Linked DNA regions of Homo sapiens. The protein of the gene in region 1 purifies or fractionates together with the protein of each later gene. This does not show direct contact. Each region holds a gene or a part of one and is shown on either strand. Other genes may lie near its edges.

The links.
Region 2: the proteins of LRRIQ1 (region 1) and MYO5A purify together in Homo sapiens (affinity purification with mass spectrometry; 2 studies listed by BioGRID and IntAct, with this or other methods). This does not show direct contact.
Region 3: the proteins of LRRIQ1 (region 1) and NOTCH3 purify together in Homo sapiens (affinity purification with mass spectrometry; 2 studies listed by BioGRID and IntAct, with this or other methods). This does not show direct contact.
Region 4: the proteins of LRRIQ1 (region 1) and TNFRSF10B purify together in Homo sapiens (affinity purification with mass spectrometry; 2 studies listed by BioGRID and IntAct, with this or other methods). This does not show direct contact.
Region 5: the proteins of LRRIQ1 (region 1) and PTPRF purify together in Homo sapiens (affinity purification with mass spectrometry; 2 studies listed by BioGRID and IntAct, with this or other methods). This does not show direct contact.
Region 6: the proteins of LRRIQ1 (region 1) and BMPR1A purify together in Homo sapiens (affinity purification with mass spectrometry; 2 studies listed by BioGRID and IntAct, with this or other methods). This does not show direct contact.
Region 7: the proteins of LRRIQ1 (region 1) and NDFIP1 purify together in Homo sapiens (affinity purification with mass spectrometry; 2 studies listed by BioGRID and IntAct, with this or other methods). This does not show direct contact.

The regions. Positions count from the first base shown.
Region 1 is NC_000012.12:85,056,851-85,060,350, reverse strand, and holds part of LRRIQ1 (leucine-rich repeat- and IQ domain-containing protein 1), read right to left. Parts: coding exon 3,167-3,500; intron 1-3,166.
Region 2 is NC_000015.10:52,308,881-52,312,380, forward strand, and holds part of MYO5A (unconventional myosin-Va), read right to left. Parts: 3' UTR 1-3,500. UniProt on the Homo sapiens protein: Processive actin-based motor that can move in large steps approximating the 36-nm pseudo-repeat of the actin filament. Can hydrolyze ATP in the presence of actin, which is essential for its function as a motor protein. Involved in melanosome transport.
Region 3 is NC_000019.10:15,190,996-15,194,495, reverse strand, and holds part of NOTCH3 (neurogenic locus notch homolog protein 3 precursor), read left to right. Parts: intron 1-1,976; coding exon 1,977-2,119; intron 2,120-2,197; coding exon 2,198-2,536; intron 2,537-2,628; coding exon 2,629-2,751; intron 2,752-2,838; coding exon 2,839-3,072; intron 3,073-3,500. UniProt on the Homo sapiens protein: Functions as a receptor for membrane-bound ligands Jagged1, Jagged2 and Delta1 to regulate cell-fate determination.
Region 4 is NC_000008.11:23,041,532-23,045,031, reverse strand, and holds part of TNFRSF10B (tumor necrosis factor receptor superfamily member 10B isoform 1 precursor), read left to right. Parts: intron 1-1,788; coding exon 1,789-1,894; intron 1,895-3,500. UniProt on the Homo sapiens protein: Receptor for the cytotoxic ligand TNFSF10/TRAIL. The adapter molecule FADD recruits caspase-8 to the activated receptor.
Region 5 is NC_000001.11:43,537,383-43,540,882, reverse strand, and holds part of PTPRF (receptor-type tyrosine-protein phosphatase F isoform 1 precursor), read right to left. Parts: intron 2,686-3,500; 5' UTR 2,606-2,685; intron 1-2,605. UniProt on the Homo sapiens protein: Possible cell adhesion receptor. It possesses an intrinsic protein tyrosine phosphatase activity (PTPase) and dephosphorylates EPHA2 regulating its activity.
Region 6 is NC_000010.11:86,889,119-86,892,618, reverse strand, and holds part of BMPR1A (bone morphogenetic protein receptor type-1A isoform 3 precursor), read right to left. Parts: intron 2,558-3,500; coding exon 2,395-2,557; intron 493-2,394; coding exon 390-492; intron 1-389. UniProt on the Homo sapiens protein: On ligand binding, forms a receptor complex consisting of two type II and two type I transmembrane serine/threonine kinases.
Region 7 is NC_000005.10:142,129,279-142,132,778, forward strand, and holds part of NDFIP1 (NEDD4 family-interacting protein 1), read left to right. Parts: intron 1-2,529; coding exon 2,530-2,617; intron 2,618-2,933; coding exon 2,934-3,064; intron 3,065-3,500. UniProt on the Homo sapiens protein: Activates HECT domain-containing E3 ubiquitin-protein ligases, including NEDD4 and ITCH, and consequently modulates the stability of their targets. As a result, controls many cellular processes.

The DNA.
Region 1 (3,500 bases):
TTCATTACCCATAATTATTGCTCTTTAGTCTTCTCTTTTGAGATATTACTGCATATAACCCAATGGTCTAGTATTTTCAACTTTATAACTTTTTTGATGAAACGGGCTATTAAGCAGCCCTCGAAAACAATCCATTTGCCTTCTCTTTGCTTGCTTGAGACCCACATTTGACAAGTGGTATTAGAAGCCCTGGGCCATGTTCTTTACATACAGCATTTTAAAACTCAGTGATCCTATATAATAGATATTGCTGTTCCAGTTTGTGAAAGACAAAACTGAGGCTCATACAGGTCAAGCATTTGCATAAGGTGTCACAGCCATAAGTGGCAGAAATAAAATTAGAAACAGTCTTAACATAGAACTTAGTAGTCTAATAAGCTACACTTCAGTAATTTTACATTCATTTCCTCTTCAGTCAATATACTTTATCTAAACTGTGAAACTGGTAGTAATGAGGAGATAAGATTAACATTCAATTGCAGTTCTTTTTTTTAATTATACTTTAGGTTACATGTATACATGGGATACATGTGCAGAACATGCGGTTTTGTTATATAGGTATACACGTGCCACGTGCCATGGTGGTTTGCTGCACCCATCAACCCGTCCTCTACATTAAATATTTCGACTGGAATTCTTTATTCATCAATTGATTCATCCCCCCACTCATCCATCCTATAATCAGGTAATGAAAGTCATTACAGATAGTTCCTGACAAGAGATAGTTTAGCGTAGAATTTTTTTTAAATTTTATGATGGTGTGAGATCAATAGACATTTAGTTGAAACCATACTTCAAATTTTGAATTTTGATCTTTTCCCAAGCTAGCAATATAAAGTATGATCATTTCTCACAATGTCAGGCAACGGCAGGGAGCTGCATCTCCCAGTCAGTCACATGATCATGAGGGTAAACAACAAATACTCTACAGTGTACCACGTTGCCAGATGATTTTGCCCAGTTGTAAGCTATGTAGGTTTATCTGGATGTAACTTCATTGTAACTTGAGGAGTATCTTTATTTGCCTGGCAATGTGTAAAGAAGTATGAACAACACGAAGATCCGATTTATGTCTTGAAGTCTCAAAGTAAGAGATTAATGTAAGCAAAATGAATGCATTACTGGGAGACAATAAACTTTTCTAAGTTGATCTCCAGAAGGACATCCCAAGGATGGCAGTGAGTGATCAGGATAAGGATAAAGATCTGAAGCTAAAAGATCAGAAAGTCAAAAAGAAACTGAGCCATGGATCAGTAGTAACAGTGGTGAATAAAGACACCATGGTAAGCCATCTACCAAACAGAATCTTTACAGGAGTTGTCTGGTAACAAAAGATGATATTTTCTTAACATTTTAGCATCTATATGGCACATTCACATGTATTTTTCATCTTTATACTGCCTATTTGATGCTTCAAAGCTAAATTAAAAGCTTGAGATAGTTGCTTTAAGAAGGGATGAGAGGATTATGGTGCCCTTTAGAACACTGCTACTCAGATTAGTCCACTCACCAGCACCAACATCATCATTTAGAATCATTGCAAGAATGGAGAATGGGTGGATCACCAGACCTATTGAATCAGAATCCACATTTCTACAAAGCTTCAGGTATTCTATAGATTTTAATAGTTTGCCAGGCCTTGCTCTAAGAAGTAAAAGAAAGAGTTAATTATCATTTTATGTAAATTGACAAACGTTCGAAAGAAGGAACAGAGAGTCAGCTGGAGAAGAAATGCCAAGGAGAAAGAGGCTCACACATCTTAACTTCCTTCTCATTGGACAGAACAGAGACCTACAAAGCAAGGGAGGAACACTACTGTTTCTGTAACTTCATTTTCACTTTTGAAGCAAGTACACTGTAGGCATGAAGCCATCACTCTTGCCTAGCTTTAACAGATACTCATGAGGAAAACTAAATAATTGCTAATGTTATCATATTGGAAGGCCTGCAGCAATATGTTAGAGAAAGAAAAGTGCTAAAACATGATTCCAGAGATAACATGCGCAAGGAAAAAATTGGAGAAGAGCAGATGAGAGATTCTATATGTAGCTCTGCAGACCTGACAGATGTGGCAAATACATTACCCAGGAAATAAAAGACACTTAAAAGTGTATGTCCCAGTTCTCATCTCTTATATTGCTATTTCATATACCAGAAATATCTTCAAAATCCCACTATTTTATTATTCTCTCACAGGATACTCTGAAGCCTTATTTACAGCAATTCTCAAGATCCATAATAACGTATTTATGTGTGTTTAAGCTCCGTAAAAGACTGGGTTTTCTTTGTTTATTAGTCAACCAATAAATATTGATCATCTTATTGGATAGATGAATATTTGCTGAGTGAATAAACAAAATAATGTTTATCTATTAATATGATTGTTCTTTCTCCTAGGCATCTGTCTAGCAAGAAAGTCTATCAAGAAACTAAATAAACTTTATTGAATACTTTTGACTTTCAGGCCTTAGCTAAATATATGTATTTTAATCATAAGTGCTTTCTAGTGTTACACTGTTTAAAATATTATTTTCTCTTTTTCTATACGTTTATTAGTTTCTGTGTCTTAATTTTGGTTGAAACTATGTTCTCCATAACCATATAAAATTAGTAACATTTGATGACAACTATTTTACATTTCAGACATATATGCACCACCTTTAAATAGCACACGCTAAATAATTGTTGCTAGATGGGAATTCTAGGGTCTTCAGGGTCTTCTATCATGCAAGCCCTTCTTTCACAACAGTGGTCATGGACATAAAATCCACTTTATTCCAAAAGCAGCCACTAGGTGGTGTGGTGGCTCAAGTCTAAAGCAAACTTCTGTTTACTTAGGAGTTTCCTACTATAATTCTAACCCTAACTTTCTATATGCTTCCATTCTTAGAGGTTTAAATAATGACTGGAGGGCCCTTGAACACAGGCTTCAAGATATTAAAAAATATAAATCAAAGCTTTTTATAGAGTGTCACTTAGGGAAGATGCCTCGAACAATTTGTTGAGATATATCCCCTCCCAAATGGGGTAATATTTCATTCATAACTTTATTAAACAAGAGACAATTCTTGTATACAAAATATTTCTTTTTCTAAGATCTGAAAAGTTATACTTTAAAGAGCTAATTGTAATTAAATGTGAAAAATTATTATAAAATTAGAAATACCTGCTGTAAAGTATCCCAAGGGCCACATCGAAGAATTTCCAGTTTATCCAAAGCGGGTGTCATGTTGGCTGGGCATTTCACAGGTCTCTTTCTTCTAACAATTTTCTTTTGTTGATTTTGCTTGAAAATTTCAAGCCAAGGTTTAAATGATTTTATCCAGGCTAGTCTCCTTTCTTCAATAGAATATAGAAGGGTTGACTCTGATACACAGCAGGTCATGCTATCAGGTTCAGGTGCATTTTCATGGCATTTTTCTGAAATATTTCTAATCTCAGATTTAAGAGAGTTGACTTCTTTAGATACCATGGAGCTTTCTGCATTATAGTTACTCAAG
Region 2 (3,500 bases), on another chromosome or scaffold:
CAGAGGTCACGGCAATACAGATCCTCTTCAACGCGCATGCACACGACACCCCTCCTAGCACCCATCAACACCTACGGCATGCACACACTGCAGTGCCCACGCACACACTGACTTGTATATGGCCTGCCCAGTGACAGCCCTCGGAAGGCACCCAGTGACTTGGGCTCCCCTGTGCTGAGGACCTAAACTGGGAAGGTGGCCTATAGCTGCAGGCCTGTCCAGGCTGCACAGCTCACCTGGTGGCTCCAATAAAGACTCTGATGGGTGTGGGGAGAGTAACTTTCCTCTTAATTTCAGAGAGGCTTTTGCTGTTTCCTGTCTTTTTGGTTGAGACAACCTGCTACCAATTAATGCCCAAACAGAGTATTGCATCCTCCCAGAGAGCACTGATTCATGACAGAAGTCAAGCTGAGTTATAGCAAGTAACTATGACAAAAAAGAAAACCACCTGGCGCTGAGCACTTGGTCTCCTTAAAACAAGTAACTTGGTACGCAGCACTTGCTCGGTTCCCACATGCCAGCTGCCAACTCTGATAAAAAAGCACCCCTTGCTGGCCAGGGGCATTCCACACGTACCAGGAGGGGCAGCACGTGACCTCACGACATTTTTAAAGTCTCCTGCATCACAGGTGCCCACACCACCACTGCTCCATATGGGAAAGCAGGACAGCCAGAGGGCTGTGCGACATCAGGCAAGTCACTGCCCCTATCTCTATTCCCAAGCTATCATCAGAAATGATTGTAGAAGCGACCCCACCTACCGTCCATGCTGCTGTGAGGATGAAACGAGGTAACAGAGGAAAGCGCCGCAGGAAAGCATATCTGGACCCAGGTACTGTTTCTGCATTACTTTCAACAGGATGCACTAGTTTTGGCTCTGTTTTATCACTAAGCAGCTGACATTACCCAGAGGATCCTTGACTATGCCTGCTAAGGAACTCTATGAATTAGTGACGGGGGTGTGTGTGTGTGTATGTGTGTGTGTGTGTGTGTAAGAGAGAAAGGGCATTGTGTGAGGACTTCTCAGGATGGTGGCAGGTGCCCATTTTCCTAGGGTTACCATGAAAGTTATTTCTCACAACAATCACTGCACTGAAATTATAATAATATAGTATTTTCATAGCCTCCCCTAACATGTAGCTGTAACCTTAGTAAAAGATTTGATCTATATTACACATAATTACTCACCCAGAAAGAGCCAACTATGAGCTATCCATGGAAATGAAGAAATAACACAGCAAATTCTCCAAACTGACAATAATCCCCAAATTCCCTATCAGTTGGCTTCGGAATATGTTTTTGTGCTTCTGCACCTGACAAAAGAAGCATCAGATATGTGGAAATTTTTTAAACTTCCAAAGGAATTAGAAGCTACACTTTGTGGATTTTATCCCATATTTATCTTCCCTCCTTTTAGAGTTACTCTCAGGCAGATCAAAGCCTTAACCTGAGGAAAAGCTGCAAAAAGGGAAATTACTTTTAAATTTTCAGCTTCAAGTTGTAAGGGTGTGAGGTGAGTCTGCATGTAGTAAGGTGAATGGGGAGGGGATTATTAAGATAAAGAACTGTTGTGACTTTTAAGATCTCTTCCTTTGAATTCCCATTGTGTGTCACAGAGGAATTAAGAAAAAGTTGATGACTGATCTTCTGAAGGAATGCATGCAGAGAAGTAAGAACAACAAGGACTGTGCAAAGATTGGGCTGATGGTAAGCACCAGGAAGGCCAGCAGGGGCAACTGAGGACTGACTCCATCCACCTGCCTTCAGTGCACAGTCAAACAGCAGGCAACGGGATAGACGATTAAGTTGAGGGAAGGGGAAGAGTGAATGAGTAGGGGAAAGGCTGGCAGGGTGTGTCTGAAGTTGGGTGAGAAAGTGTGGCTGACAGAGAGAAAGAACCTCAGAGGGAAAGCAATCCTCAAACTGGCCCAAAGATCCCCATAGTCGGCAGAATCTTCTTGTACCTTCAAGAAAATGGTATACAGAATCATTTACTGGGCCTTGGGGTTCCCTGGTTACAAGGTATTCTTGTCAATGACTAAAAATCTCCAGGCCACCAAGAGAGGTTAATTCAGACCCCCATCTGGAGCTCTGGGTAGACCTGGGAGGAAGCTGGAGCCCTGGAATAGCAGAACCTTTGTGCCACCATCGCTGAACAGGAGAAACCACCAAGGGCAGCTGTAGGAGCTCTGGCTCCAGCACTTGACAGGACAAAGACAGGAGATGGGAGAGAAGGGCTCAGACCACAGCCTTTCTTTCATGACGCTTCAGTACATGAGCTGTCCGGAGTAAAAAAAAGGGCTGCATGGCAGTGACAGCTACAGCATGACCTGGAAGACCTGAGAAGATTCAGGGTGCACGTTGAGTCGTGCTACACAGGATGAAGCTGGGGGAGGTCTGGGAGATTTCCAGGGCTGAGGCGGACAGCCTGTACCACGTTGCATTTTCTTAGCAACTCCCCAACTTACAGCCTATCGGATGCTGTTAGATTCTGACACATTTGGTACGAACCAAATGGCTATGACTTAATTGTGCATTGAAAACCGCATTGACAACCAGGAAAAACTGGGAGAATTTGATGCAATTGGTAGTGTTTCTGGTTGATACTGCAAATAAATAAATAAATGTATTCAAACTGAATAAAGCAATACATGATGTAATAAAAATTACTTAAACTAATTATAATACAAATATAGTAGGACCTTCTAAAAGCATGTACATAAATCATGTACATTTAAGAAAGGTTACAGCTACACAAACTTGTGATTTTACATTTGATTAATCCTAAGGAATTGACAGGCACTACACACTGGTCTTTCCATCAGAGAATGGACTTACTGAGTAACTGCAGCTTTTTCTCTCTAGAATCTAAGGGCTGAGAAGAGAGAATTTTAAATGTGGAGGAGATGTTAAGAATCAGTGTCCAACTCTCTTATTTTATAAACGAGGAACTTGAGGCCCATGTAAATTAACAGACAGTATTTATCTTTTAATAACAATCTTTATCACTGATATGAAGCTGTTTGACTTCCATAAATATTGCACATATTTTAATAAGATTTATAGACCATCTAACAGTTAAATTTATATAACCTATGATTGTAATTCAGAACCAGAGTTTCTAATGAAAACTAATAATTTGCTTTTGTGCAACCTGAAGGATTTATTGTATAAGATTCCTAAGAAAAATGGTGAATATGTTTAACTAGAATTTCAGAATGAAAACTTACAGAATCTGGGTCTTAATGAACCAAATCCTCTGTAAAATTCAACAATCTTCTATTTCTTATATAAGTCTTCTTAAAGTATTTCTAATATGATGCTTTTAAAATTATCTAGTGGCATCTGAGAACACTTATAGAAGCTGCAAAGCCTTAAAAACTGAATCATAATGAAATATTTATTATATACCTTCTTTTGCATAATCAAAGTTTCAAGACCTGAATCGTGAATATTCTGACAATCCTCTCTAGATAGTGAGTGAGATTCTTTTTTTTTCC
Region 3 (3,500 bases), on another chromosome or scaffold:
ACCATAAACTGGGTAGCTTGAACAATAGTAATTTATTCTCTTGAAGTTCTGGAGGTTGGAAGTCTGAAATCAAGATATCGGCAGGGCTGAGCCTCTCCATGGGGACCCAGGGGAGAACTGACTCTTGCAGCTTCTGGTGGCTCCAGACGTTTCTCAGCTAGTGGCTGTCTCACTCCAGTCCCTGTCTCTGTCTTCTTCTCTTCCTTCTCCCACCCAAATCTCCTTTTGGCTGCCTCTCTCTTTTTTTGAGACAGAGTCTTGCTCTGTCACCCAGGCTGGAGTGCAGTGGTGCAATCTTAGTTCACTGCAGCCTTCAACTCCCAGGCTGAAGCGATCCTCCCACCTCAGCCTCCCAAGAAGCTGGGACTACAGGTGTGAGCCACCACGGCCAGCTAATCTTTTATTTTTATTTTTTAGGTGGAGTCTCTCTCTGTCACCCAGGCTGGAGTGCAGTGGCACGATCTCGGCTTACTGCAACCTCCGCCTCCCAGGTTCAAGCAATTCTTCTGTCTCAGCCTCCTGAGTAGCGGGGACTACACGAGTGCACCACCACGCCCAGCTAATTTTTGTATTTTTAGTAGCGACGAGGTTTCACCATATTGGCCAGGCTGGTCTTGAACTCCTGACCTCGTGATCCGCCCACCTCAGTCTCCCAGAGTGCTGGGATTACAGGCATGAGCCACTGCGCCTGGCCTGTTTGTTTTTTTTGTTTTTTGTTTTTTTTTGAGATGGAGTCTCCCTCTGTCAACCAGGCTGGAGTGCAGTGGTGCAATTTCGGCTCACTGCAACCTCCGCCTCCTGGGTTCAAGCGATTCTCCTGCCTCAGCCTCCAGAGTAGCTGGGATTACAGGCTCCTGCCACCATGCCCGGTTATAATTTTTAATTTTTTTTTGTGGAAAAAAAGTCTCCCTATGTTGCTCAAGCTGATCTTGAACTTCTGGCTTGAAGTGATTATCCTGTCTTGACCTCCCAAAGTGTTGGGATTACAGTTGTGAGCCGTTCTCTTGTATGAACACTTGTCACTGAATTTAGGGCCCAGGTGGATAATTCAGAATAATCTCATCTTGACATCTCTCATTTAATTACATCTGCATAGCCAGGCCTGGTGGCGTGTGCCTGTACTCCCAGCTACGCAGGAGGCTGAGACAAAGAATTGCTTGAACCCCGGGAGGTGGAGGTTGCAGTGAGCCAAGATCGCGCCACTGCACTGCAGCCTGGGTGACAGAGCAAGACTCCGTCTCTTAAAAAAAAAAAATTACATCTGCAAAGAGCCATTTAAAAAAAAAGTAAGGTCCTAGTCACAGGTTCTGGGACATGGATGTCATCTTTTCAGGGGCTGTGACCCAACTGACTACATCCTTCATGGTTCTGATGGCTTTCACCGCCCCCTGCCAGCATGTTGTATATTAATTTGTTATTCGTATATGTTCTCCTTGCCTGGACCTGGCTGCAAGGATCCAGAGGGATAGGGACCCCTTTCATTGTGTTTGTTGCTGTATTTGTATTGCTCAGAACGTAGTAGGTACTCAGTAAATATTCGTTGCATGAATGAATGTGTGTTTTGTTTTGTTTTGTTTCTTTGAGACCGAGTCTTACTCTGTCACCCAGGCTGCAGTGCAGTGGCGCGATCTTGGCTCACTGCAACCTCCACCTCCCGAGTTCAAGCAATTCTCCTGCCTCAGCCTCTTGAGTAGCTGGGACTACAGGCACGCACCACTATGCCCAGCAAAGTTTCGTACTTTTAGTAGAGACGGGGTTACACCATGTTGGCTAGGCTGGTCTTGAACTCCTGACCCCAAGTGATCTGCCCGCCGCAGCCTCCCAAAGTTCTGGGATTACAGGCGTGAGCCACTGCTCCCAGCAAATGTGTGTTTGCTGCTCTGTTTCCCTGCGTGTTTCTTGCCTGTCTTGTGTGTATCTTTGTGTCTGGGGCCATCCTGCCCTGTGCTGCCCAACCAAGCCATCTCTGCCCACAGGTGCCCGCCTGGCTGGGTGGGTGAGCGGTGTCAGCTGGAGGACCCCTGTCACTCAGGCCCCTGTGCTGGCCGTGGTGTCTGCCAGAGTTCAGTGGTGGCTGGCACCGCCCGATTCTCATGCCGGTGCCCCCGTGGCTTCCGAGGTGAGAGGGGAAGAGTCTGGAGGGGAGGTAGTCGGGGGTGTGGTCAGTCCTAAACTCACCCTGTCCTGGTCCCTCCAGGCCCTGACTGCTCCCTGCCAGATCCCTGCCTCAGCAGCCCTTGTGCCCACGGTGCCCGCTGCTCAGTGGGGCCCGATGGACGCTTCCTCTGCTCCTGCCCACCTGGCTACCAGGGCCGCAGCTGCCGAAGCGACGTGGATGAGTGCCGGGTGGGTGAGCCCTGCCGCCATGGTGGCACCTGCCTCAACACACCTGGCTCCTTCCGCTGCCAGTGTCCAGCTGGCTACACAGGGCCACTATGTGAGAACCCCGCGGTGCCCTGTGCACCCTCACCATGCCGTAACGGGGGCACCTGCAGGCAGAGTGGCGACCTCACTTACGACTGTGCCTGTCTTCCTGGTGAGTGAGCCCTACTCAGGAGAGTCAGAGGGGTGGGCGTGGGGACAGCAGGCCAGCCCGGCGGTGACCATCCTTGCCCCCTTCCCTGCTAGGGTTTGAGGGTCAGAATTGTGAAGTGAACGTGGACGACTGTCCAGGACACCGATGTCTCAATGGGGGGACATGCGTGGATGGCGTCAACACCTATAACTGCCAGTGCCCTCCTGAGTGGACAGGTGGGCACTGCGGCCAGAGGGAGCGGGGAGGCAGGCCTCGGGTGGACATGCGCCAGGTGGCTGGACTGCTGCATCTGTGTGCCACAGGCCAGTTCTGCACGGAGGACGTGGATGAGTGTCAGCTGCAGCCCAACGCCTGCCACAATGGGGGTACCTGCTTCAACACGCTGGGTGGCCACAGCTGCGTGTGTGTCAATGGCTGGACAGGCGAGAGCTGCAGTCAGAATATCGATGACTGTGCCACAGCCGTGTGCTTCCATGGGGCCACCTGCCATGACCGCGTGGCTTCTTTCTACTGTGCCTGCCCCATGGGCAAGACTGGTGAGTGGCCGTTTTCTCTGCAGGGAGCCATGGATGGTTTTTAGTGAGGGCAAATAAGAAGTCTGACTTGAGTGTTAGAAAGATTATGCTAGGCTGGGCACAGTGGCTCATGCCTGTAATCATAGCACTTTGGGAGGCCCAGGCGGGCGGATCACTGGGGTCAGGAGTTTGAGACCAGCCTGGTCAATATGGTGAAACCCCATCTCTACTAAAAACACAAAAATTAGCTGCGCGTGGTGGTGCACACCTGTAATCCAAGTCTCTCAGGAGGCTAAGGCACGAGAGTAGCTTGAACCCAGGAGGTGGAGATTGCAGTGAGCCAAGATTGCACCACTGCACTCTAGCCTGGGTGACAGAGTGAGACTCCTTCTCAAATTTAAAAAATAAAAAAAAGATTATGCTAGGCCGGGCACAGTGGCTCATGCCTG
Region 4 (3,500 bases), on another chromosome or scaffold:
GTTGGCCAGGCTGGTCTCCAACTCCTGGCCTCAAGTGATCCATCCGTCTCGGCCTCCCAAAATGCTGGGATTATAGGCATGAGCCACTGCACCTGGCCTCCTCATTCATTTTTGATTTAATTTATTTGTCTTCTTTCTTTTTTCTTAGTTAGTCTAGTTAAAGTTTAGTGATTTCATTTATTTTTTCAAAAAACTAACAGAATTTTGATAATCTTTTGTATTTTTTTCAGTCTCTATTTATTTTTGCTCTGATTTTTATTATTTCTTTTGTTCTGCTAACTGTGGGCTTAGTGTATCTTTTCTTCTATTTCCTTGAGGTACAACATTAAGTCTTGTATTTGAGATCTTTCTTCTTTTTTGATGTAGGCGTTTATTGCCATTTCCTCTTAAAACTGCTTTTGCTGCATCCCATACATTTGGTTATGTTATGTTTCCATTTCATTTTCTAATATACTCTTAAAATTCCCTTTTGATTTCCTCTTTGACACATTGGCTATTCAGGAGCTTGTTACCATTCAAGTTCTTTGTTCATTTCTTAATCACATTGTTGGCTTTTTGTTGTTGTTGTTGAGTTGGAGTTTTTTATATATTTTAGATATTAACCTTTTATCAGATATACAACTAGCAAATGTTTTCCTCTTCCTGTGGGTTGCCCCTTCACTGTTGATCATCATTGGATGCACAAAAGTTTTTAATTTTTACATAGTGCAATTTATCTACTTTTTTTCCTATATTGCTTGTGTTTTGGGGATCACATTCAAGAAATCATTGCCAAATCCAAGGTCAGGAAGAATAGTTCCTATGTTTTCTTCTAAGTTTTAGGGTTTTCACTTTTATGTTAGATTTTGGATCCATTTTGAGTTAATTTTTGTATACGTGTAAGTTAAAGGTCCGAGGTCATTGTTTTGTGATGAGTCAATGTCTAGATTTCCCAAGACCATTTTTAAAAAGATTGTCCTCTCAATTAAATGGTCTTTATACCTTTGCCAAAAATTACTTGATCATATACAGTCATGCACCACATAACAACATTTCTGTCAACAACAGACTGCATATGTGATGGTGGCTCCATGCAATTATGTAACATGCTACACAGGTTTGTAGCCTAGGAGCAAAAGGCTATACCATATAGGCCAGGTGTGTCATAGGATACACCATCTAGGTTTGTGTAAGTACACTCTTCTGATGTTCACACAACACAATTGCCTAATGACCCTTTGCTCAGAACAATGTTGAGCAATACATGGTTGTACGTGCAAGTTCATTTCTGGGCTCTCTGGTCTATATGTCAGGCACCTTTTAAATCAGAAGTTCACTATTTAATGTTTGATCCTGTATCCCAATTTTTTAAGTTTGCTATATTATAACCCCCATTTATAAAAATGTGTGTCTGTGTGTATGTCTGTGTGAGAGAGAATAAGAGAAAGAGAGAAAGAGAGAATAGGCATACCTATGGAAAAATAGTGGAACTAAATGAGACAAAATATTAATGGATGCTATCTTTAGCTGAGAATATCACGTGTGGTCTGTGTATTCTTGTAAAAACTTTCCTTGCCCACATTTTCTGGAATGAACATGTTTAGAAGAGTTTTGCAGGTGTATGTTACTTGGCCTTCCCTGAAATATGAAGGGACAAACAAACACTAAAGGATGTTTGAGAGGTGAGAGCTGCAAGAAAGATGAGGGTTCTGTTTAGCTTGGGTGCCTGGGCTCAAGAGAATGTGAGTGGATCCTGGGAGGGGTGAGGTCTGGAAGCCACTCATGCCCATCCCTGCTTTGTCCCCACAGGTCTCAGCTGAGTCTGCTCTGATCACCCAACAAGACCTAGCTCCCCAGCAGAGAGCGGCCCCACAACAAAAGAGGTCCAGCCCCTCAGAGGGATTGTGTCCACCTGGTATGTTCAAGATGGGTCTCTAATCCTTGCCCCTCCTCCCCTTGTCTCCATGAGCTTCCAGTCTGTTTCCTTTGCACTTCCTTGTTCTTTATTCCACAGAGAGGCATTGGGTGCCTCCAGTTCAAGGCTCTGTCCTTCTGGAGCCTTCCTGCTAGGATGGTATCAAGACACACAAATGAATGAGACAGCCAAAGAAACTGATAGGAACCTTGAGAGAGAATTGAGTGGGACAGAGATGGGGCTGGTGAGGCCTCCAGGCAATGGTGACTTTGGGCTGACATCCGGAGGAGGGCAGGGCCAGAGGTTCAGAGAGCCAGGAAGAGTGCTCCTAGGAGGGTTCCACTGGAACAATTGCCAGGGGGCAAGAGTTGGAGAAGATGGAGCAACAGCAGGGGGCTGCTGTGGGGAGTGGAGGGTTAGGAAGTTAGAGAGACACGTGGGGTCAGATCCCACACAGATGAAGCTGGATTTTATTTCATGAGTGATGGATGTCCCTGAGAAGTTTTCAGCAGAGGGCCACCAGCATCGGATGTACATCTTGAGTGCCCACTCCTGGACTGAACCGGAGCAAGACAGGAAGCAGGTGGAGGGCCTTGAGTGTGAGGCGCTCCCCTGGGATGTTATGTGGTGTCCCGTAAGGTCATTTGAGCCCCCAGAGATGCAGCAGGAACCTGGCCTGAAGTGTGCTTGACTGTTGTGTTCGCCTCGCACTTCTTCCCCCTTTTCCCCCATGTGTATGAGTTAGGAATTGATTGCTGCATGAAGGTTTCCAGGGCAGGCAAGTGTGGCAAGCAGTGGCTTTTAAAATCCATTTACAAAGTTGCATTTCTTTTCCATGACTAAGGGCCACAGGAAAGGCTTGCCTGAGGGCAAACCCTCACATTGCACATGTGGGCTTGCCAGGAGCAGAGCATGGAGAAGGAAGAACCCAGCGTGAAGCAGACACAAACTCATCTGTAAATGCTCCTATTGCTGTGGTCCAGGGTCAAGACCAGGAAGCAGGACGGGAATAGGAAGGACTCAAGACATATTTGGGGTGTGGATGGATGACGTGTGGGGAATGAGGACAATCGAGGCACCAAATTCAACTGCTCAGGGTAACTTGGCCTCTGAGGGGACAGTGTGTGGCAGGGCTAGCAGTACACATTTGGGGACCCTAGCACATAGGTGATGCTTGAAGCCGCTGTCTTGAGTGTGTCCACCTGGAAGAAGTTGTAAATACTGAGGAGGGGCACAACTGAGCCCATGAGGATTTGAAGTTGGAGACGATAGGCCAGGGAGACAGGACTGCAATGGGCTGAGCAGGAGCAGTTGGAGAACTTCCATCCTAGAGGAGAGATGGCCCTTCCAGCCACAGGGAGCAGGCCATAGCAAGTGTCAAGGACTGAGATGTGGAAACTCCTCGAAATGTGCATTTCTCTTCCTGTGAATGAGGTCAAGAATCTGTTCATGACACAGACACTGTTTGTACACTGGTTCTCCTAGGTTTTCTTCACTCCTAGTAAGAGGTTAGGTTTTTTTTTTTTTTTTTTTTAAATCATTGAGTCACATGAATTCTTACAGATTAGGGAAATTATACATTGATTGATTGATTGATTGACTGATT
Region 5 (3,500 bases), on another chromosome or scaffold:
CAACCACTGGATTATGACGGGAATAAATTATAGTCTCAGCCAGGACCCCTGACCCAGGGAAGGAGGGGCCTGTGGGGAAGAGGGTGAGGCCGCCTTCCCTCCTCCAGCCAGTTGGCCAGAATCCGTGAGCAGAGCCAGGAACAGCCCTCCCTCCCACGGCTGGTATCGGGGCTCCCACCAGCTGGACTGAGTCCCACCCTGTTGCAGCTCTCAGTTTCTCCATCTCACTGAGGAGTGGAGGGGGAGATTAGGAGGAGTGTCGCAGAGACTTGGAGGCGGCAAAGGGTCAGCAGGAGACTAACTCTGGAGGCAAATGACCAAAGGGGACCAGCAGAGGTATCTTCCTGCGGCTGTAACCCCTAAGCCTCCAGGCCCCTTCCTCTGGGGCTGGGGTCCCCCTTGGATTACTGTTTCCCAACTTTGTGCCTCCAAGCCTCTGTACCTGCCGTTCTGTCTATTGGAAAAAAATGTCCTTCTCCTGCCCCAGCACTCACTCACCCCTCAGAACTCTGCTCAAGTGGCCCATCACTATCCATCTTCCCCACTGACCCTCCCCAATTTTCCAGGTTTGTACAGTATAGTGAAAGCAGCAAGAGGCTGTAGACCAGAGGTTCTCAATTCAGGGTAATTTTGCCCCCATGGGACATTACGCAACGACTGGAGACATTTTTGATTGTCGAGACTGGGGAAAGCGGGGAGATGCTACTGGCATCTAGGGGGAAGAAACCAGGGATGCTGCTAGACACCCTACAATAACAAGCCCTGCCCCCACAATAAGGGTTATCTGATCCAAAATGTCAATGGTGCTGAGGCTGAGAAACCCCAACACAGACAACAAGATCCTTTGCCAATTGAGCCTAGAGCCTGACCTGGCCCCTGCCCCAGAACCCAATCCCCTGTGGGCACCCTGGGCCTTGTACCCAAGGAAGCTCCAACCTGGCTTAACTCCTGTATTTGCTGGCGCCTGGCCTCAGGATCTCAGAGTATCTTCCCCTGTACCCCCACATCAGCCCTACCCAGCCTCCAGAAGTCAGGTCCTATAGCACACCCCATCTGCACCCCACCAGACATGCCATCAGCTAGTGGCCTCCCGAGAGGACAGAGGGCTCCACCTTCAGGTACCTATTCTGGCAAGACTGGACTTCGAGTTAGGTCAGACCATCATCTGAGGATGGAGAGGCAAAGGGACACATAGTGTCCCTACACCCACCCTCCCCATCTGACCTTTCCAGCCTGTGACACAGCCCCTCTTGCTGCACCCTCTACATAACCCCAGTGCCCATCTCACCAAACGTAGGGTCTGGACCCCAGGAGACACCCAGGACATACACATTTCCTTCCCCTACCCAGGCCAGACCCATCTCTTCCACAGCCTTGTTAGTTCAGCCACCCGTCCAGATGTTCAGTGGGCAGGGTGATGAACAAGAGAGTCACAGGCTCTGCCTTCGAGGAGCTTACAGAGGGTGAACAGACCCACCGAGCTCTTGGCTCAGGATGGCCCAACCAGAACTCATCTGCCCCAATTCCACTCCTCCTCCAGGGTGTCCAGTCTTGGGGACAGCACCACCATGTTGTCAGTCACCAAGCCCGCAAACCCTCCTTAAATGCTCCCTTGTCCTCATCCCACACATCTAACCCATCAATAAGTTTGAATCTGACCTGCCTCCATCCTCACTGCCACTGTGTTAGTAAGACCTCATCACTTCCTGCCTCTTTGGTGGGCTTCCTGCCTTCAATCACTCCCAACCCATCCCGCACACAGACCAGTGCCACCTTTCAGCACATAAAAATGCAAATCTGCACTTTTGTTTGCCACTTTATTTCACAGCAGGCATTCAGACAGTGTTCCGTGAAAGAATGAACGGATGGGCAATGGACAGATCAACACATGGATATTGCTTCTCTGCTTAAGAACCTTCAATGCTGCTGTATTGCCCTCAGGAAAAAGTCTAAAGTCTTTAGCCTGACATCCAAGGCCCATGATGCTGACTCTAAACCAACTTACCAACCTCATTCCCTGCAACTCCAGCCCACCCATTCTGTGCTTCTAACAGACAGAGAGGAGAACAAGGGGACATCAAAGAGATGCAGAGGACATGCCCAGATCCTGCAGGCACCAAGCTCTTTCTACGACAACCTACAGTCGATGGGAACAGTCTTTTCTACAGAAACGTGGCGAATGGAGAAGCAGAAGAAAGATCCTGGTGTAAGTCCCAGGACATCACCCGGAAGCCTATTTCACACCTACAGTAGCTGACGAGCTGTATGTCATTCCCCATCCACCTCTATCATCCACTCCAGCCAGAAACTCAGGCACCATCCTTGACACCTCCCCTCCTTCATGCCCCACATTCAATCCTTCACCACGTCCTGTCTACTCTACCTCCCTAAATAGCACTCACATCCCTTCTCTCCACTTCTGTCACTGCCTCCCTGGTCCAGGCCTCCACAATCTCTCACCAGTGCACACTGGATCATGTCATGCCCCCTGCTGACACCCCCTCTATAGCTCTCCACTGACCCTGCATCAAATCCAAGCTGCTCAGCCTGGTCCATAGGACCCCTGTGCACCCCTGCTCCTGGCCACTCTGTGGGGCACACTCACCGAGTCTTTGCTTCTTCACCCCGGTCACTCTTGCTGGATACTCAGCACCAAGGGCCGGGCACCAGGGCCTCCACTCCTTCCTGGACAGAAAGGAAAGCATGAGAAAACATCAAGAATTTCATCACAACAGCATATGTATTGACACAGAAAGACATTAAAAATTTGCTGTTTATGCAGAAAAAAAAGCAGGTTATGGAAATGTTCATGTAGAACCATCCCCATCTGGTAAAAATGCCCATCTTTTCCCTTCACTCCCTCGCTCATTCATTTTGATACTCCCTAAGCACCTACTATGTGCTGGGCGTCCTTCCAGGCACCAGCCATATAGCTGTGAGCCACACAGACCAAGTCCCTGACCTCAGCAGTAGACTCTGTGGCCCAGCTCCTCAGCATGACCCCAGAGCCAAGCAGAGTCGGCCCCTCCCACCTCTGCAGCCCTACCTGCCCATGCTCTCCTCCTGCCAGAACGGGAACTTCCTCTTCTGATCCTCAAATGTGCCAAATTTCTTCCTGTCTCCCAGCCTTGCCAGTGCTGAATGCCACTGCCTGGCACAGGCTACCCATGCTCTTCTGGCCAACTTACCCTCGGATCTCAAGTCCAGTGGCACTTTCTCAGGGAAGCCTTCCACAATGTCCCAGACTACCTGCCTGGACCTTGGCTTGGAGCCGTGACCACAAACATGACTATTTATATATTTTTACAATTACTGAGTCACTACCATAAGCTTGATAGGAGCATGGACTGTGGCTGCCCAGCTCATTTCCGTATCCCCAGCGCCTGGCTGACAGCTGGCACATAGTAGGTGCTCAGTCAGCATACACTGAATGAGTGGATGAACGCATGAATGAGTTCAAAGAAAACAGCCCAGCCTGGAAGAACACACCCCAACATACA
Region 6 (3,500 bases), on another chromosome or scaffold:
TGTCTCTACAAAAAATACAAAAATTAGCCAGGTATAGTGGCATGCACCTGTAGTCTCAGCTATTCAGAAGGCTGAGGCAGGAGGCTGGCTTGAGGTTGCAGTGAGCGGAGATCGCAGCACTGCACTCCAGCCTGGGCAACAGAGCCAGGTGCTGTCTATGGAAATAAAAAAGGAAATTGTAATCAAACAATTAGCTTTTCAGAAATGATTTAGTTATAAATTCTACATATGAATACAGGACAGAATCTAGACAGTAGGTATTCCTCCAATATATTTACTGATGTGAACATACAGCGATGTGTACACCAGGCATGTTTCTCCTGGGGGAAATCGATGCTTTCATATGGCCCCTCCCTTCTTTGTCTCATGGGTCCCAAATTATATCTTACTTTGCACTGAAAATCAGATCCTTCATATTTCATACACCCTGAAGCTAATGTGGTTTCTCCCTGGTCATCTTCTTCTATGATGGCAAAGCAATGTCCATTAGTTCTAAAACAGAAAAAAACAAAACAAAACAAAACATAAATTCACATAGAAAGTACTAACGAAATTTGAGTCTGAATGTGAACAGGTACAGATGGCCTTTAATACTTTGTTTTGTGACTTAGAATTGCATTCACACGTGATTTATTGGCAACGCCAGAGGTTTTAAGACAAATGAAAGTTATGTCTGAGCCAAGATCTAAAAGGCCAGTGACAACCCTTTGTCAAGAAGAAAAGGATTTCAATTAAACAAGTCCTCCACATAGGAGTTATGTGACTTCTCTTTGCTAATCAGTCATGTGATCACAGAAAGCTGATTTATAAAATTTTATGTCATGTTTTGAAAACATACTTTAAAATAACTTTGTCTCTTTTTACCCATTTTTTCAGTACTTCCATATTGTATATGATAATAGATAAAAACAAACTTTTCTCTGAAACATACAAATAGGCTTAATGACCAAAAAAAAGGGGACTAAAAGGCACCTTTTACTGAATATGATGGGAAAACAGGGAGAGGACTTTTGAATAAATTTTCAATAAATTTACATACATATATAATGAAATTCTTATTTTAGTGTTAGCATCCTGGAGTTTCCCCTTAATATATTCATATAGACTTTAACAGGTATGGGAGAAATTTCTAAAAGCTTTTTCTGTACTCCTATTTATTGTTAATATCAGGAATTGTGCTGCTTCTACTTAGAAGAATTTTGCAGAATTCTTGGTTTTCTGTTAGGAGAAAATGTTAAGTGTGGGGCAGAATTCTGTTAAAATGGATGATTCAGTTTTACTCTGGGTTACTAAGCTACTAACAGACAGCCCATTACATCAGGCAGGTACTACAGACAAGAAGTTTAGCAAAACATTATTTGGTGACATAGCAGAGAGCAGTTCCCTGCTGGCAAACTCTCACCAAGGTAAAAATGAACAACTAGTCACAGTCAGCCACGCAGAGCCCACCACCACCAGGGGACAAGCAGCAAACCTAAGACACGATGACCGTCATGCAGGTTCAAGAGTTTACGTGTAAAGTTTCATGCTTTCTATCTGGTCCATTCAGGGAACATACAATTATTAAAAGTATAAAACATGACATTCATTATTGCCTCTATAACAAGGAGACAATTAATTGACTGATGAGGTTGAGTTGTTCAGGCAATTTTTTTTGGTCTTATTAAGTCAATATGTCAATGTTTCCAACAAATATGGACTAGAATTACATGATCATATATAAACATGTTGTGCAGCTAACACGAAATACACTAGAAAAATTAAAATCATTTTATAAATCAGATTTGGATTGGTAAATTCACAGGTAAGAAAAAAGCATAAAATTAATTAACACAATATGATTTATATATATCTGCAAAATATTTCAACTAATTAAGAAGTAGGAGGCCAGGTGTGGCAGCTCACCCTAGTAATCCCAGCACTTTGGGAGGCTGAGGTGGAAGGACTGCTTGAGCCCAGGAGTTTGAGACCAGCCTGGGCAACATAGCAAGATCCTGTCTATAGTTAAAAAAAAAATTTTTTTTTAAATTAAAAAGAAGTAGGAGGTTGTCAGTGAGTTTTCTGATTTCTTTTTTGGTAACCTCTAAGTTTTCTAAAATGAGCATCAATAAATTTAAGATTAAAAGATCATTAAAAACTCAGATGTTAAATACTAGATCCCTTTGATCTTATTTTAAAAGCTGCATTATAACATAATTCTAATATAGTAACTCACCTATCAATCATTTAATGGAATAATGTTCTAATATACAAAACAAAAGGCTTTTTGGCTTTCTGGAAAGATACTATATATGAATGAAAAAAAAACCGCAGACAAGTTTAATAATTCTTAAAATAGCACTAAATGCAACTCTATTCTCCTAACTCTTAAGAAGGGCTGCATAAAATACTTACATGCATGTGTTATTAATAGCATCATCTGGACAGTGCCCTGAGCAATAGCACTTTAAAAAAGGCAAGGTATCCTCTGGTGCTAAGGTTACTCCATTTTCTGACTTTTTCTGGTCGGAGTCTGATTTCATCCCAGTGCCATGAAGCATACTATCCAGATTCTGTCCTGCATTCAAATATGGAATTTGTAAGTAAATCATTTCTGAAAAGCTCATTGTTTCGTGACAATTTTCAATGAGAAAAAGTTGTTAAGCTTTCTTATCACAATAATTGTAGCTAGCATGTTTCTTTAGAAATATAAATTTCATTCATACAACAAACAGACATACATTATTATGCACAGAATTACTGCACCAGGTATTGCGGGGTACATGAAGACAGCTATATCACAATTTTTGCACTAGTGAAAGACAAACAAGAGTGGCGCAAGGCAGAATACAGTCAAATCTTGTTTTTTATATTTTTAAAATAACTTAAAAATTTTTTAATTTAACCAGGGAAAAGCATGAACGCAGTCCCCCACCACCACAATTATGCAGTTGAGTTTCCCACATTTGGGGAAATCGCAGGGGTCAGCACATCTGGAGTGCAATGAATAAGCCTCGCCCTGGGAAAACCACCTTCGTGACCGTGGTCTCTCCCCTGCCAGGTAAAAGTATATAGTCATCACTTGTAAGAAAGGTACAAAAGGGGGAGAGACTTCACAGAAGTCTGTGAGAGTTTCCAATCATTAAATAGAGACAAGTTATGATTCTTCTTTTAACTCTTTGGTTCAAAACTTGTGACCAGCTTTCCTTTATTTGTGCCTCTATGTGGAAAAGGAGTTACTAAGCATCTTGCTTTGGCCTTTAATTGCTTAAGTAAGGAAATCATGAGAGCATGGGGACCAATCATGTTATCTGGAGATTTTCACCTCGAGGTCATTGGTTTGAATGCAGACGATGCTGGCAGAAACTGAAGGTTATAGAAGGGCAGCAGTTAGCTCACAGAAATAGAACTATGTTCTTACACTAGAGTCTAGCAGCCTGCAGTGACAGATACTGTCATATTTGGTACTAAATCTTTCAGGCTGGAAGCAGAACGGAACTAAAAAAACTGTTCTAGTAATT
Region 7 (3,500 bases), on another chromosome or scaffold:
CAAATAATGTTAAAACCAGTATTTTAGGTGAACCATGGTCCCAAGAACTCTATTTAAGTAATTCCTAGTTCGGTGTCCCAGGAGCATTTGGCTTTACTGCACCTATTTTGGCCACATGTCTTTGTTTAAAAGGAAAAATTATCTTAGGTTATAATACAGCTATTTTGGGAGTACCTTAAGTTTAACATTAGATTACTAGGATTCGAAAAAATGTACCCAGATGGTAGATGCTGATGAGAATTTGACACAAGAATTCATTTGAAATTGAAGCTTTTGTAGTATTAGTCAGAAAAATTTATTGACATCTGGTTTTGAACAGCATAGTGAGTGGAGATTGAGATGATCAGTTAAAATTTAATGGATTGTGGCCGGGCACAATGGCTCACGCCTGTAATTCCAGCACTTTGGGAGGCTAAGGCAGGCATATCACCTGAGGTCGGGAGTTTGAGACGAGCCTGGCCCACGTCTACTAAAAATACAAAAATTAGCCAGGTCTGGTGGCATACGCCTGTAGTCCCAGCTACTTGGAGTCTGAGGCAACAGAATTGCTTGAACCTGGGAGGTGGAGGTTTCAGTGAGCCGAGATCCCACCATTGCTCTCCAGCCTGGGCAACAAAAGCGAAACTACATCTCAAAAAAAAAAAAAAAAAAAGAAAGAAAGAAAATTTAATGGATTATGGAGCTCTACTTCACATTAGTACACCTCGGTCTCTCTGTTTTTCTGTCTCAATTCAAGATAGAGTTCTTTGTAGCGGTATGGTTTAGAGGTGGTATGTATTTTACAAGTATGTCAGTTGGCTCTGTATATCCTGATGATACCGAAGCCAGGACCAGACCCCTACGTCAGTTATATCACTAAATATTCTGTTATTAATTTTCAGATTGGCTCCTAGTCCCAGCCAACTCATGTTTTAAATTAATATAGTTCATTGTCACACTGGACTGGAAAAACCAAATGAAATGTCTTTATTCTATGAAGATGACTTGTGTAGACTATACAGACTAGCAACAGCAGACACTTTCAGTGCGAGTTATTTTAAAAAATTGAAGATTTGACTGGCAGAAAAGTTGCTGAGATAGGGAAAAGGGATATCTATTGACAGATATATGTAGAATTAGGGAGAATTTTATGTTTTCATAAGTGTCTCAATTATTTAAGATTTAATTTGGTGTGCATGTGGAATATAATGGTAACATGGTTTGTCTGTGATTTGTCTTTTGTCTTAACAGATTATTTTTCTAACTTTAAAAAAGTATACATCACTTGAGGCCAGGAGTTTTAAACCAGTCTGGGCAACACAGGAAGACCCCATCTCTACAAAACATAAATTTTAAAAAAAGTTAGCCAGGGTCACAGTGTGCCATAATTGTGCCACTGCACTCCTGCCTGGACAACAAGAGTGAGATCCTGTCTCTCCAAAAAAAAAAAAGTATGCAAGTGATAAATATTCACTACAAAATATTTGAACATGCAGATACACAACAAAAAGGAAAAATTCCCCTGTACTCCTATTACCTAGAAATAACAGTGTTGAACTGTAAATGTCTCATTCTAGGCCTCCTTTCCATTATATGTCTGCCTTTTTAAAAAGGATTATATGATGCCTATTGTTTGGCAAGTTTAGCTTTTTTCATGTAATAATAGTACACTGTAAATATCTATTTGAGTAATGAAATTTAATTTTTTTTTTTTTAAAGACATGGTCTCTCTCATGCCCCAGGCTGGAGGGCAGTGGCACAATCTTAGCTCGCTGCAGCCACGACCTCCTGGGTTCAAGCCATCCTGCTGCCTCAGCCTCCTGAGTAGCTAGAACCACAGGTGCATGCCACCACTCCCGGGTAATTTTTGTATTTTTTGTAGAGACAGGGTTTGTTTTGCCATGTTGCCCAGGCTAGTCTTGAACTCCTAAACTCTCCTAATCTCAAGCGATCCCACCCACCTAGGCCTCCCAGAGTGCTAGGATTACAGGTGTGAGCCACCATGCCTGGCTGAAATTTAATGTATATTTTTTTTGACACAGAGTTTCACTCTGTTGCCCAGGCTGGAGTGCAGTGGCACCATCTCAGCTCACTGCAACCTCCGCCTCCCGGGTTAAAACGATTCTTGTGCCTCAGCCTCCTGAGCAGCTGGGACTATAGGAGTGTGCCACCATGCCTGGCTAATTTTTGTATTTTTAGTAGAGATTGGGTTTTGCCATGTTGGCCAGGATGGCAAAATTTAATTTTTAATGGCCGTTTAGTAGTCCTTTGTGTGATGTACTATAATTTATTTGTCTCCTATGATTGGAATTTAGGTTGTTTCTAATTTTTGCTGACACAACACTTATATGTACCCATTTTGCCTCTTTGAATATTTCCATAGAATAACTTCCTGGGAGTAGAATACTTTTCTTAAAGGATTTGTGCATTTCAAGGCTTTCAAAATACGTTGCCAAATAGCTTTCGAGAAAGGCTATTTATTTCAGTTTTTGGGTTCTTATCTTTCTAATTGGCTTTATGCTTACATTAAAATATGAAATTTTTATTTAGTTGCAGAATGAAGAAGAGTCTGGAGAACCTGAACAGGCTGCAGGTGATGCTCCTCCACCTTACAGCAGCATTTCTGCAGAGAGCGCAGGTAGGTAACAGGGCAAGGTGATCACGGAATCCTTAAAAACACTCTGTGCTTTGACATTACAGTTTAAAAAAAAAAAAGCTTCAGAAGCAGTTGGAAGAAAGGTTACAAAGCAAGTCTGGATTTTAAATAATTGAGAAGTGGATACATTTAAAAATCACCCCCAGTCTCTTACATTCATCTAAGAATGTCTTTTGGTTCAATTGTTATGTATGTACTCTTAAGGGAATGGCTGGGTTTTGTCTGCTAGAGTTAGTGGAACTCCTTTTATTTCAATTCAGCTAATCATCAAAAAATTGTGACTGTTAAAATTCTGCAGCATATTTTGACTACAAGGATGAGTCTGGGTTTCCAAAGCCCCCATCTTACAATGTAGCTACAACACTGCCCAGTTATGATGAAGCGGAGAGGACCAAGGCTGAAGCTACTATCCCTTTGGTTCCTGGGAGAGTGAGTATAATTTGCCATGTTACTTGATGGCTGCTCTGTGGGAATTAAGTTATTTTCATTATCCAATTTTGATTCGTTACTTATGATTGTATTGATTAGTGAAAGTAGAGCTAATTTTAAAAATCAGGTACATTTGCTTTTGGGATAATAAACTCATCTCTTCTTAAAAATGATGAGGTAAATTACTAGTCAGACCTGCTCATTTTTCCTTCATCTCTCCTATTACCACTACTTTTTCAAGTCTCCTGGGATGGCTGAAGTATCTTGAAGCAGAAGCACACTAATGTTTCCTTGATTCTGCACACTTAATATTTTGCTGTTGGGTGGATAGCTGCTAGGGAGGTCTAGGAAGAGAATAAATATATGCAAATTTGTAGAATTAAACTCATAAGAGGGATCTTCACATTGATTTAGATGAACTCCGTTCTTCCAGCAG